Linked DNA regions of Homo sapiens: region 1 is linked to region 2. Evidence: fine-mapped expression QTL. A gene starts in region 2. The other region holds a variant in brackets. All regions are shown on one strand. Distances are between the middles of the regions.

What was found. PIP is the estimated chance that this variant, and not a neighbour inherited with it, causes the effect. A credible set is the group of variants that fine-mapping cannot tell apart.
Region 1: its variant is the best candidate, but not a certain one, in a credible set for the expression of OXA1L-DT in lung (TOPMed, PIP 0.71).

What each region holds. Positions count from the first base shown.
Region 1 is chr14:22,731,154-22,736,534 of GRCh38, forward strand. The region is part of intron 1 of OXA1L-DT (OXA1L divergent transcript); the gene reads right to left. Among named protein-coding and RNA genes, the nearest start is that of OXA1L-DT, 33 kb to the right of the region's middle. The variant G/A (reference allele first, on the strand shown) is at 2,115.
Region 2 is chr14:22,764,308-22,769,688 of GRCh38, forward strand. OXA1L-DT (OXA1L divergent transcript) reads right to left here and starts at 2,255. Exons shown (of 3, transcript XR_001750638.3): 1 at 2,117-2,255. OXA1L (OXA1L mitochondrial inner membrane insertase) reads left to right here and starts at 2,381. Exons shown (of 10, transcript NM_005015.5): 1 at 2,381-2,457; 2 at 2,941-3,102; 3 at 3,651-3,864. The coding sequence starts at 2,395. RefSeq lists enhancers at 976-1,539, 1,540-2,102, 2,103-2,666, 2,260-2,489.

The DNA of each region.
Region 1 (5,381 bases), 33 kb before region 2:
GGAACTTCCTCTCTCCCCAATTCTTTTTTTTTTTTTTTTTTGAGACCGAGTCTGGAGTGCAGTGGCACAATCTCGGCTCACTGCAACCTCTGCCTCCCACTCTCTCACCAATTCTGATGTCGTAGATGATCTTTCCTTTTGCCTGTCACACTCTCCTCAGCCTGCACCTGCTTCACCTATACCCTCTCCATTTGCTCCATCCCCGAGTCAACGCCCCTCCATATCCAGACACTTCATCCCCCTCACATACTCTCATGGGAGTCACATATGCCACTAGTACAGAGTCCTCAGAATATCCCAATAATGTTTTGCCTTTCCATGAGGTGACAAATGGAAACTTGGGAACAATTCAAGTCATGTCCCTTTCACAAATTTAATCCAAGTTGGGTTCATTTAGCCAGGATCCCTTTAAGCTCATTAAAGAATTGTGGGCTTTTGACTATTGCCTTTGATTTAACCTGGCAAGACATGTATGTGGTATTAACTACTTGTTGTTCCCACAAAGAAAAATCATGCATATGGTCTTTAGCTTGAGTTTTTGGGCAGATGAAGCTCATGCTCATAATTAATGGTAATAGAGCCAGGGCAATAGGTGACCACAACACAGAAACCAGCTGGCAATATCAGGCTGCTGATGCCAGCCCAAACAGAGGCGGGATTACATGATAGCTTGCTTGTTGGAAGGAATGAAAAAGCCTGTAATAAAACCTATTAATTTTTCTTTTTTCTTTTTCTTTTCTTTTTTTTTTTTTTTTTTTGAGATGGAGTCTCACTCTGTCGCCCAGGCTGGAGTGCAGTGGCGCAACCTCGGCTCACTGCAACCTCCACCTCCTGGGTTTAAGCAATTCTCTGCCTCAGCCTCCAGAATAGCTGGCATTACAGGTGCATGCCACCACGCCCGGCTAATTTTTTTGTATTTTTAATAGAGACGGGGTTTCACCATCTTGGCCAAGCTGGTCTTGAACTCCTGACCTCATGATCCACCTGTCTCAGCCTCCTAAAGTCCTGGAATTACAGGCGTGAGCCACTGCACCGGGCCAATTTTTCTAAATTACCGGAAATTACCCAGCAGCCATCTGAGAACCCCACCCTTTTCCAAATTAGACTGGTGGAGGCCATACATAAATATACAAATTTAGATCCTGAAAGCCCTGAGGGCCAGTTCACTCTGGCCATACATTTTATAAGTCAGGCTTCCCCAGACATCAGACAAAAACTCCAAAAATTAGAGCAAGGCCCACAGATTCCCTTTCCGACTTTATTAAATACAGCCTTTAAGGTTTTCAATAACTGGGAGGAAACCTCAAAAATAAAAAAGACTCAATTGGAGGAAGAACAATGCCATCGCCAAGCTAATTATGTGGTAACACAGCATTGACACGTTCTTTTTCGTTAGTTAATAACCCCAAGGCATGTCCCTATAATACTAACAGAATGGGGGCCTGTCATCACTGCAGAAATCCAGGATATTGGCGTAGAGAACATTCCAAACCTCCAGGTTACAAAGCTGCCCCCAGGATCCTGTCCTCATTGTAAACAAGAGGGTCATTGGAACAGCGAGTGTCCTTCTCTCCCTCATGAGGAGGGGCCACCTCCTCCTTCTGGGCCGTCGCAGCCACAACCTCACCAACCTACCCAACAAGGGGGTCCTGCAGAAAGAGGACAAGGGCAAGGGCAAGCACAAGCACCTCTAACTCTATTCCTGGATTATGATCGAGCCTCTGAAAGTCATCCCCTAGATGACTGATGGGGCCTTGAGGCCATCCAGGCCCTTACCTTTTCCAACTCTATGGAGGAGCCTCAGTCAATCCAGCTGTGGCTGAACAAGAAATAATGTTCCTCATAGATACAGGGTTCAGCTTCAAATGTTGACCAAATGTGCCAGTCCTCCATATTCCTCACGGGCATTGACGAAAAACCCCAATGAGGCTGTTTCACACAGCCACTCCCTTGAAAAATGGAAGGCTATTTCTTTACCCACTCCTTTTTAGTCCTACCAAGTTGCTCTGGGTTTTTTTTGTTGTTTTTTTTTTTTTTTTGAGACAGAGTCTTGCTCTGCCACCCAGGCTGGAGTCCAGTGACGTGATCTTGGCTCACTGCAACCTCCACCTGCC[G/A]AGTTTAAGCGATTCTCCTGCCTCAGCCTCCTGAGTAGCTGGGATTACAGGTGTGGGCCACTGACACCCAGCTAATTTTTGTATTTTTAGTAGAGATGGGGTTTCACCATGTTGGCCAGGATGATCTTGATCTCCTGACCTTGTGATCTGCCCTCCTCGGCCTCCCTAAGTGCTGGGCTTAGAGGGGTGAGTCACTGCCCCTGGCCTAGAATTATTATTATTATTATAATTATTATTATTATTACTATTACTATTTTTGAGACGGAGTTTCGCTCTTGTTGCCCAGGCTGGAGGGCAATGGCTTGATCTCGGCTCACCGCAACCTCCGCCTCCCAGGTTCAAGAGATTCTTCTGCCTCAGCCTCTCGAGTAGCTGGGATTACAGGCATGCGCCACCACGCCTGGCTAATTTTGTATTTTTAGTAGAGAAGGGGTTTCTCCATGTTGGTCAGGCTGGTCTCAAACTCCTGACCTCAGGTGATCCGCCTGCCTCAGCCTCCCAAAGTGCTGGGATTACAGGCATGGGCCACCACACCCAGCCCCTAGAATCACTGATGAAGCTGTAATTTCTATTCATCCTATTGTCCCAAATTCTTACACACTTTTTGGACAAACTCCCACCACCACAGCTTGGTTTATCATACTTGATCTTAAGGATGACTTTTTTGCATTCCTGTACACCAAGATAGCCAAATTTCGTTCACTTTTGAATGGCAATATCCACATACACAAATAACTCAACCATTAACTCATGCAGTTCTGCCCCAGGGATTCAGAGATAGCCTCCACCTTTTTGGACAGGCTCTAGCTAGGGACTTGTCCACCCTGCAGCTTCTCCCATATAGCAATCTGCTCCAGTATGTGGATGACCTACTAATCTGTAGTCCTAACGAGGCTGTTTCAGACCAAAATACAGTATTAGTACTAAACAAACTTGCTGATTGTGAATACAAATTATCTTCTTCTAAGGCCAAAACACCCACACAAAGAGTTCAATTTTGGGGTCTTATCTTAACCCTTGGTACAAAGAGCCTCTCTAGTGCTCGTAAAGATCTTAAACATGACAACTCTAGTAAATAAACAACAGCTTTGGTCCTTTCTGGGTAGAGTCAGGTTTAATATGGATTCCTTCCTTCAGATTAATAGCAAAATCTTTATATGAAGCTTTCAAGGGAACTGAGGAACAGCCTCTAACATGGACTAATGATATGAAACATGCTCTAAACACTTTTAAACAGGCTTTAATCTCAGCCCCAGCCCTAGCCTTACCAGATCTGACTAAGCCTTTCTTTTTGTATGTACACAAACAAAAGGGAATCGCTTTGGAAGTCTTAGACCAAGATCTGGAGCCCTCTAAGTGCCCTACAGAATATTTTTCAAAAACTTTAGACTTGGTACCCCAGGGATGGCACCCCTACTTAAAAATAGCAGTGGTCCAAGCACGGTGGCTCTCGCCTATAATCCCAGCACTTTGGGAGACTGAGGTGGGAGGATCACAAGGTCAGGAGTTCGAGACCAGCCTGGCCAACATGGTGAAACCCCGTCTCTACTAAAAAAATATATAAAAATTAGCTGGGTGTGGTGTGCACCTGTAATCCCAGCTACTCGGGGGGCTGAGGCAGGAGAATTGCTTGAACCTGGGAGGCGGAGGTTGCAGTGAGCCGAGATTGTGCCATTGCACTCCAGCCTGGGCAACAGACAAAAACTCCATATGGGGAGGGAAAAAAAAAAAGCTGCAGTGGCCCTCTTAGTCCAAAAAGCCTCCAACTATATTACCTGCTCCTCCTGGGCTCTTAGGGCTTTGTGGCACTGCCAATAATTATTTAAACTCTTTTCAAGCTTTGGCCCTATCCCACCTTGATAATTCTCTTCATTATGGTGATTGCACTCTGAGAACAATAGTTCCCATCCAAATCACTGTCTTGAATATAACTTCCAATTCAGAATTCCATTCTAGAAGAAAGGGAGCCCTAGGACTTATTATGGCTGGAGTTGTGGGAACGATTGCAACACTCACCCCTTGAGGGGGTTTTGCTTACCATGAAATCACACTACAAGGACATACTGTCTCCCTTGAAATAGCCTTAGCAAAAACTGGTGCAAGTCTATCAGCAATAGAAAAGTCTTTAGACTCGCTAGCAGGAATGGTGTTTGATAACAGATGAGCTCTGGATTATCTAATAGCTGAACAAGGAGGAGTCTGTGCTGTCATCAACAAAACCTGTTGCACCTACATTAATGTGTATGGAGAAGTGGAACTTCCAATGTCCAAAAAATTTTTTAATAAGCCAAGTGGCTACACACACCTTCCCAAAGTAGCCAAGACTGGGCCAGAACCTTTACTGATTGCTCTCCAAAAATCACTTGGCTTCTCCCATTCTGGACCTTTATTCCTTGTCATTCTTTTAATATTTGGTCCCTGCCTTTTTAATGCTCTCGTTAAGTTTACATCTTTGATATTAAAACAATTCCACCTACAGATGGCTATGCAATCCCAATACCAGCCTGCAACAGCAACTTCCATTCACATGGGGTCTCTTGATGGAATTCAGTCTTCCCCACAAGTCTTTCATGACCCTTCATTCCCTTCATGACAGAGAGCAAGAAAGGGAAAAACTCAACCGAAACCCTTAACACCCCTTTTCAGCAGGAAATAGCCAGACGTACTTGTCACCCCTCTTCACTGTGCCATTTTCCCTCTCTTGAGACCCCAATAGGCAGCAGGTAGCCATGATCATGAGGGAACATAAAGGGCCAAAGATTTGACCAAAATGTCTGTCAGGGAAAAAATGAAAACAGCAAATCACCTGGTGACCATCTAGCAGGCCCTGGAGACAAAAACTCCTTATCTGAGGAATTTAGAAGTAATTAAACTTCCCTCTTATCTAAAGGCATCTGGTTCCAGGCCTTTTCTCAACTTAAAATTTGTAAGTAACTAGAATTTCTTTTTTTTTTTTTTTTTTTTTGAGACGGAGTCTCGCTGTGTCTCCCAGGTTGGAGTGCAGTGGCGCGATCTCGGCTCACTGCAAGCTCCGCCTCCCAGGTTCATGCCATTCTCCTGCCTCAGCCTCCCAAGTAGCTGGGACTACAGGCGCCCGCCAACACGCCCGGCTAATTTTTTGTATTTTTAGTAGAAACGGGGTTTCACCGTGTTAGCCAAGATGGTCTCGATCTCCTGACCTCGTGATCCGCCCGTCTCGGCCTCCCAAAGTGCTAGGATTACAGGCGTGAGCCACCGCGCCCGGCCAGTAACTAGAATTTCTATACA
Region 2 (5,381 bases):
AACCCAACCCACAGTATCTTCCAAGTTTGCCTGTACATTTTAGCTATCTATTATTAAACAACTTAGTGGCTTAAAACTACAATAATTTTATTTATTTGCTTGTAATTTTGCAATGTGGGCTCAAATAGCCTTTCTTTGCTCCACACGCAGTCACCTGAGGTGGCTCCAGTGGGCTGGAGAATCCACTTTTTAAATGGCCTTCTTCACGTGGCTGGCAAAAGTTGGTGTTGACTGCTGGCTGGGAGTTCAACTGAGGCTGTTGGCCCAAACCTCAGTTCTTCTTCACATGGTTGGTTGGGCTTTTCACAGGCAGTAAGTCTGAGAAGTCAAACTTCTAACACAGCAGCTGGCTTCCCCCGAATGCAAAAACAGAAGCTATCAGGCCTTCTTAAGGCATAGTCCCAAACTGGCATAACATCACTTCCAACGCATTCTACTATTGATTAAAGCAAGTGACAGGCCCAATCAGACTCAAGAGAAGAGAACTCCTAAAGGTGCAAATATTGGGAAGCCTGGTTCATTTGGGGCCACCAAAGTAGCAGTGTACTGTAAGATAGTCACCCTGCCAAGTGTTCTGTAGCTGTATATTTGTAATTACTTCTAATTGTATTGAGTTTTAAAAGTAATCTCTAAAAAAAAATCAGTGTTTCCATATCAAAAATCTATTGATGTTTATAATAGCATCCAACATATGCAAGTGTTAGCTCATACCACTAATTATTACTAAATCAGTATTATAGTTCTTTGCCTCCTATTTTCGCCATATCTGTCAGGTACATTCATAATCGTTCCAAATGAGCAGTCACTGAAATAATTTCAGGTTATTGTATCTTTCTGAAACTATAATTTGTTGTTTAGAAAGTAATCTGCATATTGAGAGACTTTGTAAGGGTTCAAACATAATCAAACTCCACCTTTCTGACCAGTAACTTTTTTCCCTGAAGATGAATGCTTTTAACTTCAAGAAACAGAACACCCAAGCAACAGACTTAGAGTCTAAACAGTAAAGACCTTTAATCATCTTTTTTTTTTTTTTTTTGAGATGGAGTCTGTCGCCCAGGCTAGAGTGAGGTGGCTCCACCTCGGCTCACTGCAACCTCCACCTCCCGGATTCAAGCGATTCTCCTGCCTCAGCCTCCCTAGTAGCTGGGACTACAGGTATGCACCACCACGCCCGCCTAGTTATTTTGTTTTTTTGTTTTTTGTATTTTTAGTAGAGACAGGATTTCACCATGTTGGCCAGGCTGGTCTCGATCTCTTGACCTAGTTATCGAGACCACCTCAGCCTCCCAAAGTGATGAGATTACAGGTATGAGCCACTGCACCCGGCCAAGACCTTTAATTAACTTACACAACAAAGTCTGGAGATAGGCAGTTCCAAGCATGGTACAGCAGCTCAATGATATCATCAAGTATTTGGGTGTTTTCTATCTTTGCCCTCAACCATCTTCAGCACGTGAGTTTTTCTTTCCTTTTTTTTTTTTTTTTTGAGACGGAGTCTCGCTCTTGTTGCCCAGGCTGGAGTGCAGTGGCACAATCCCGGCTCACTGCAACCTCTGCATCCCGGGTTCAAGTGATTCTCCTGCCTCAGCCTCCCGAGTAGCTGGGATTACAGGCGCCCACCACCACGCCCGGCTAATTTTTGTATTTTTAGTAGAAATGGGGTTTCACCATGTTGGCCAGGATGGTCTCGACCTCCTGATCTCGTGATCCACCCACCTCGGCCTCCCAAAGTACTGGGATTACAGACCTGAGCCACCGCGCCCGGCCTGCACGTGAGCTTTTCATCTGGAAACTTGTCCCCTCATGGTCAGTCCTCACACCACCCCACTTACAGAAGAAAAAAATGGAAAGGTGAAGTCTCCTCTGGAAGCTTCGTCTTTTTATCTGGGAGGAAAATATTTCCCAGAAGCTGCCTTCTTTTAATTTCTGTCAGACTCTAGACTACCCTCAAATTTCACTGGACCTGCGATTACAATATTACCTAGCAATAAGAATCAAAAGAATCGAACATCATTGAGTGGGAAAAATCCTCTGCAAGTACAGCCAAGCCTTTTCTGAGGCTATTTTTAAACTTACAAATCAGAGGACAATCGCGACATTAGAGGAAAATTACCCAGGTTTACGCCATCACTAACGATGATAGCTTACGATGATAGCTAACCCAGCTCTTCAACTTCCTTTCAATCTCCAGAAAAGGCTCTCTGCGTGCTAATGGTAACGTGGCTTTACAGATTTTTACCCACTTCAAATATGGCCGCCAAGCTCCGTTCTCTTTTACCGCCTGATCTGCGGCTACAATTCTGGCTTCATGCCCGCCTCCAAAAGTGCTTCCTCTCGAGGGGTTGTGGTTCTTACTGCGCAGGCGCAAAAGCAAGTCCTCTTCCGGGCAAAATGGCGATGGGACTAATGTGCGGACGCCGGGAGCTTCTGCGCTTGCTACAGTCCGGGCGTCGGGTAAGGATGCCCCGGGGCAGAGCACCGGGATGCTGCCCTGACCCAGTGAACCAGGCCCCAGGACAGCTCGTGCTAGGGGTATCAGCAGACGCTGACCTGCTCACCGGGACCTGAATGTCATGACCTCGGGTCATGTGAGGACGCGCTAGGGTTAGTCCCCGACACTATGGGCCCAGCAGCCCGGTGTCAGCTTCTGGAATTGGCTTGGCTCCTGGCGAGAGCACCTCGGCCTCGTTCTCAGGGCCCTCCGATGTGGGTCTGCGATAACTGAGATGCGGGGAACCCAGGTTCGAGCTTCGCTCTGCAGGCACCACCCGCTGCATGCCTTCGGGCTAGCGGTCTGCGCGCGGTGATAGCAATGTCCTCCCCTGTAGTGGCCGAGCTGCCTGCTTCTTGGGGAGTTAGCATAATGAATCCCGTTTGCACCCACGCGAGGACTTCTGCTCCCGGTAAAGGGGCTCCATCATCCTTTTACACGCTCAGGTCCACAGCGTCGCAGGGCCCTCGCAATGGCTTGGGAAACCGCTGACCACACGGCTCCTATTCCCAGCAGCCCCGTGCTGCTGTCGCCCACACTACCTCTTCCTTGCGGCTTCCGGCCCCCGCAGCCTCAGTACCTCTGCTATCTCTTTTGCAGAAGTCCAGGTAAGAGGCCTTTCGTTCCTGCAATATTAGGAGTGGTGTTTCCTGGTTGGTTTCATATTTTGTTTTGTTTGGGAGCAGGGGGAATATGGAGCAGAGTTCTTGTCCACGCTCCACACAGCTCTCCAAAATGATAGCATCTCTGCTTAGGATGGATTTTCAATTCAGTGGGGAAATGATTGAAAGTACAACAGGAGAGATGTTATATTTGGTTTTCTGAGCTGTTTTAAAGAAAAGCAATTGTTTCATGTTAATATATGGCAAAAATCATGATAGTGATATTCAAATGGCTGAAGTTTGGAAAACAGTGATAAAAGAAATAACTTCCCAGCATGAAGGGAAGTCATGGATTCTTACTCAAAGTAACTTCTCTTCCTAACTATTGATAAAAATGAGATGTCCTTTTTAAGCTTGAAATCTGCAGACACTAGGCTAACCTGGAAGAACAAGAAGTAGAGAGAACAGAACCCAGTACTGGTTATTATAAAAAGATCTCACTTGCTTTGTGTTCGCTACTGAATAAATATAATACAAGGCTTTCTTTCACACAGGTTCAGGCCCCTCCTGTTGTTGCTGCAACTCCCTCACCCACAGCAGTACCTGAGGTGGCTTCTGGAGAGACTGCAGATGTAGTCCAAACTGCTGCAGAGCAGAGCTTCGCTGAACTGGGGCTGGGGTCATACACCCCAGTGGGACTGATCCAGAATTTACTGGAATTTATGCATGTTGATCTGGGCCTACCTTGGTGGGGGGCCATTGCTGCATGTAAGGGGAATATACCCTGGACATGGGTTAGGGATTTAACCTCATAGATGGCAATTCTTTGAATGGATTCAGGAAGTAGTTGCAGAAGCTCTGGGGTCAGAAGAGCAGATGATTTCAAATGAGCAATAGAGGTTCATGATACCTAGATGCACTCTGCCTATATTTCTTAAAGAGCATTATAAAACCACCAGATCATCTGGGATTCAAGAAGTGTAGATATTTGAATACAAACATGGGGTTAGAGTCAGGGGACCTTATTAACAGTCATGAAGCTATCCTGGTTTAGAACAGAGGTTCAGGTCAGGCACTTAAACCCCTAAATTGGGAAGCCACTAGCATTGCTTTTGTAAAGGCTAGAACTCTGCTTTGAATTATGTGTCTTTCTGCCACGTTGCTCCATCAATTATCTTTTCTCCCCTGTGTCTTCAGCATTTCCCTCCTCACTGCCCTACCCCGAACATGTAAACATGCTCAGGCACACCCATGTGTTACCTGGGGGAAGGTTTCTTCCCTTCATCCTTAGTTCCCCTTCACTTACTATCCTATCTTCTTCCTTTGATGGCTGTTATTTATTTTGTTGTTGTTAATTTTTGTGGATACCTAGTAGGTGTATATATTTATGGGCTACATGAGATGTTTTGATAGAGGCATGCAAGGTGTAATAATCACATTATGGAGAATGAGATATCCATCCCCTTAAGCATTTATCCTTTAAGTTACAAACAATCCAATTACACTTTTATTTTATTTTTTATTTTATTTATTTTTTTAAACGGAGTCTTGCTCTGTCACCCAGGCTGGAGTGCAGTGGTGCAGTCTCAGCTCACTGCAACCTCCACCTCCCAGGTTCTAGCGATTCTCATGTCTCAGCCTCTCAAGTAGCTGGGACTACAGGTGTGCCACCACACCTGGCTAATTTTTACGTTCTTTATTTAAAAATATGCTATTATTACTGACTATAGTCACCCTGTTGTGCAATCAATAGTAGATCTTATTCTAACTTTTTTTTACCCATTAACTATTCCCAACCCTGACTACCCTTCCCAGCCTCTGGTACCTTCCTTCTACTCTCTGCCCATGATTTCATTTGTTTTGATTTTTAGATCTCACAAATAAGTGAGAACATGGCGATGTTCGTCTTTCTGTGCTTGCCTTATTTCACTTAACATAGTGATCTCCAGTTCCATCCACGTTGTCACAGATGACTGGGTTTCATTCTTTTGATAGCTGTTACTTAAAAGACTGCTCTGCATCCAATTAGCCTACTTCTTTCCATTTACTCCCTCAGCCGTCTGGCTTTTACTCATATCACCTCATTCGAACTGCCAGTAACATAATTGCTAAATCCACTCCTGTCAGCTTTTTGTTTGAGGAAACAAACAGGATTCCTAATCATCTGCTTAGAGAAGTTAATGCCATACTTTTGTGATGCCAAATTAGAGAACTGAGCCTTAAAGCAACTAATTCATTCCCCTGACCTTATTTCTGGGCCTCTTAGGCATGAGTCATAGAATGGA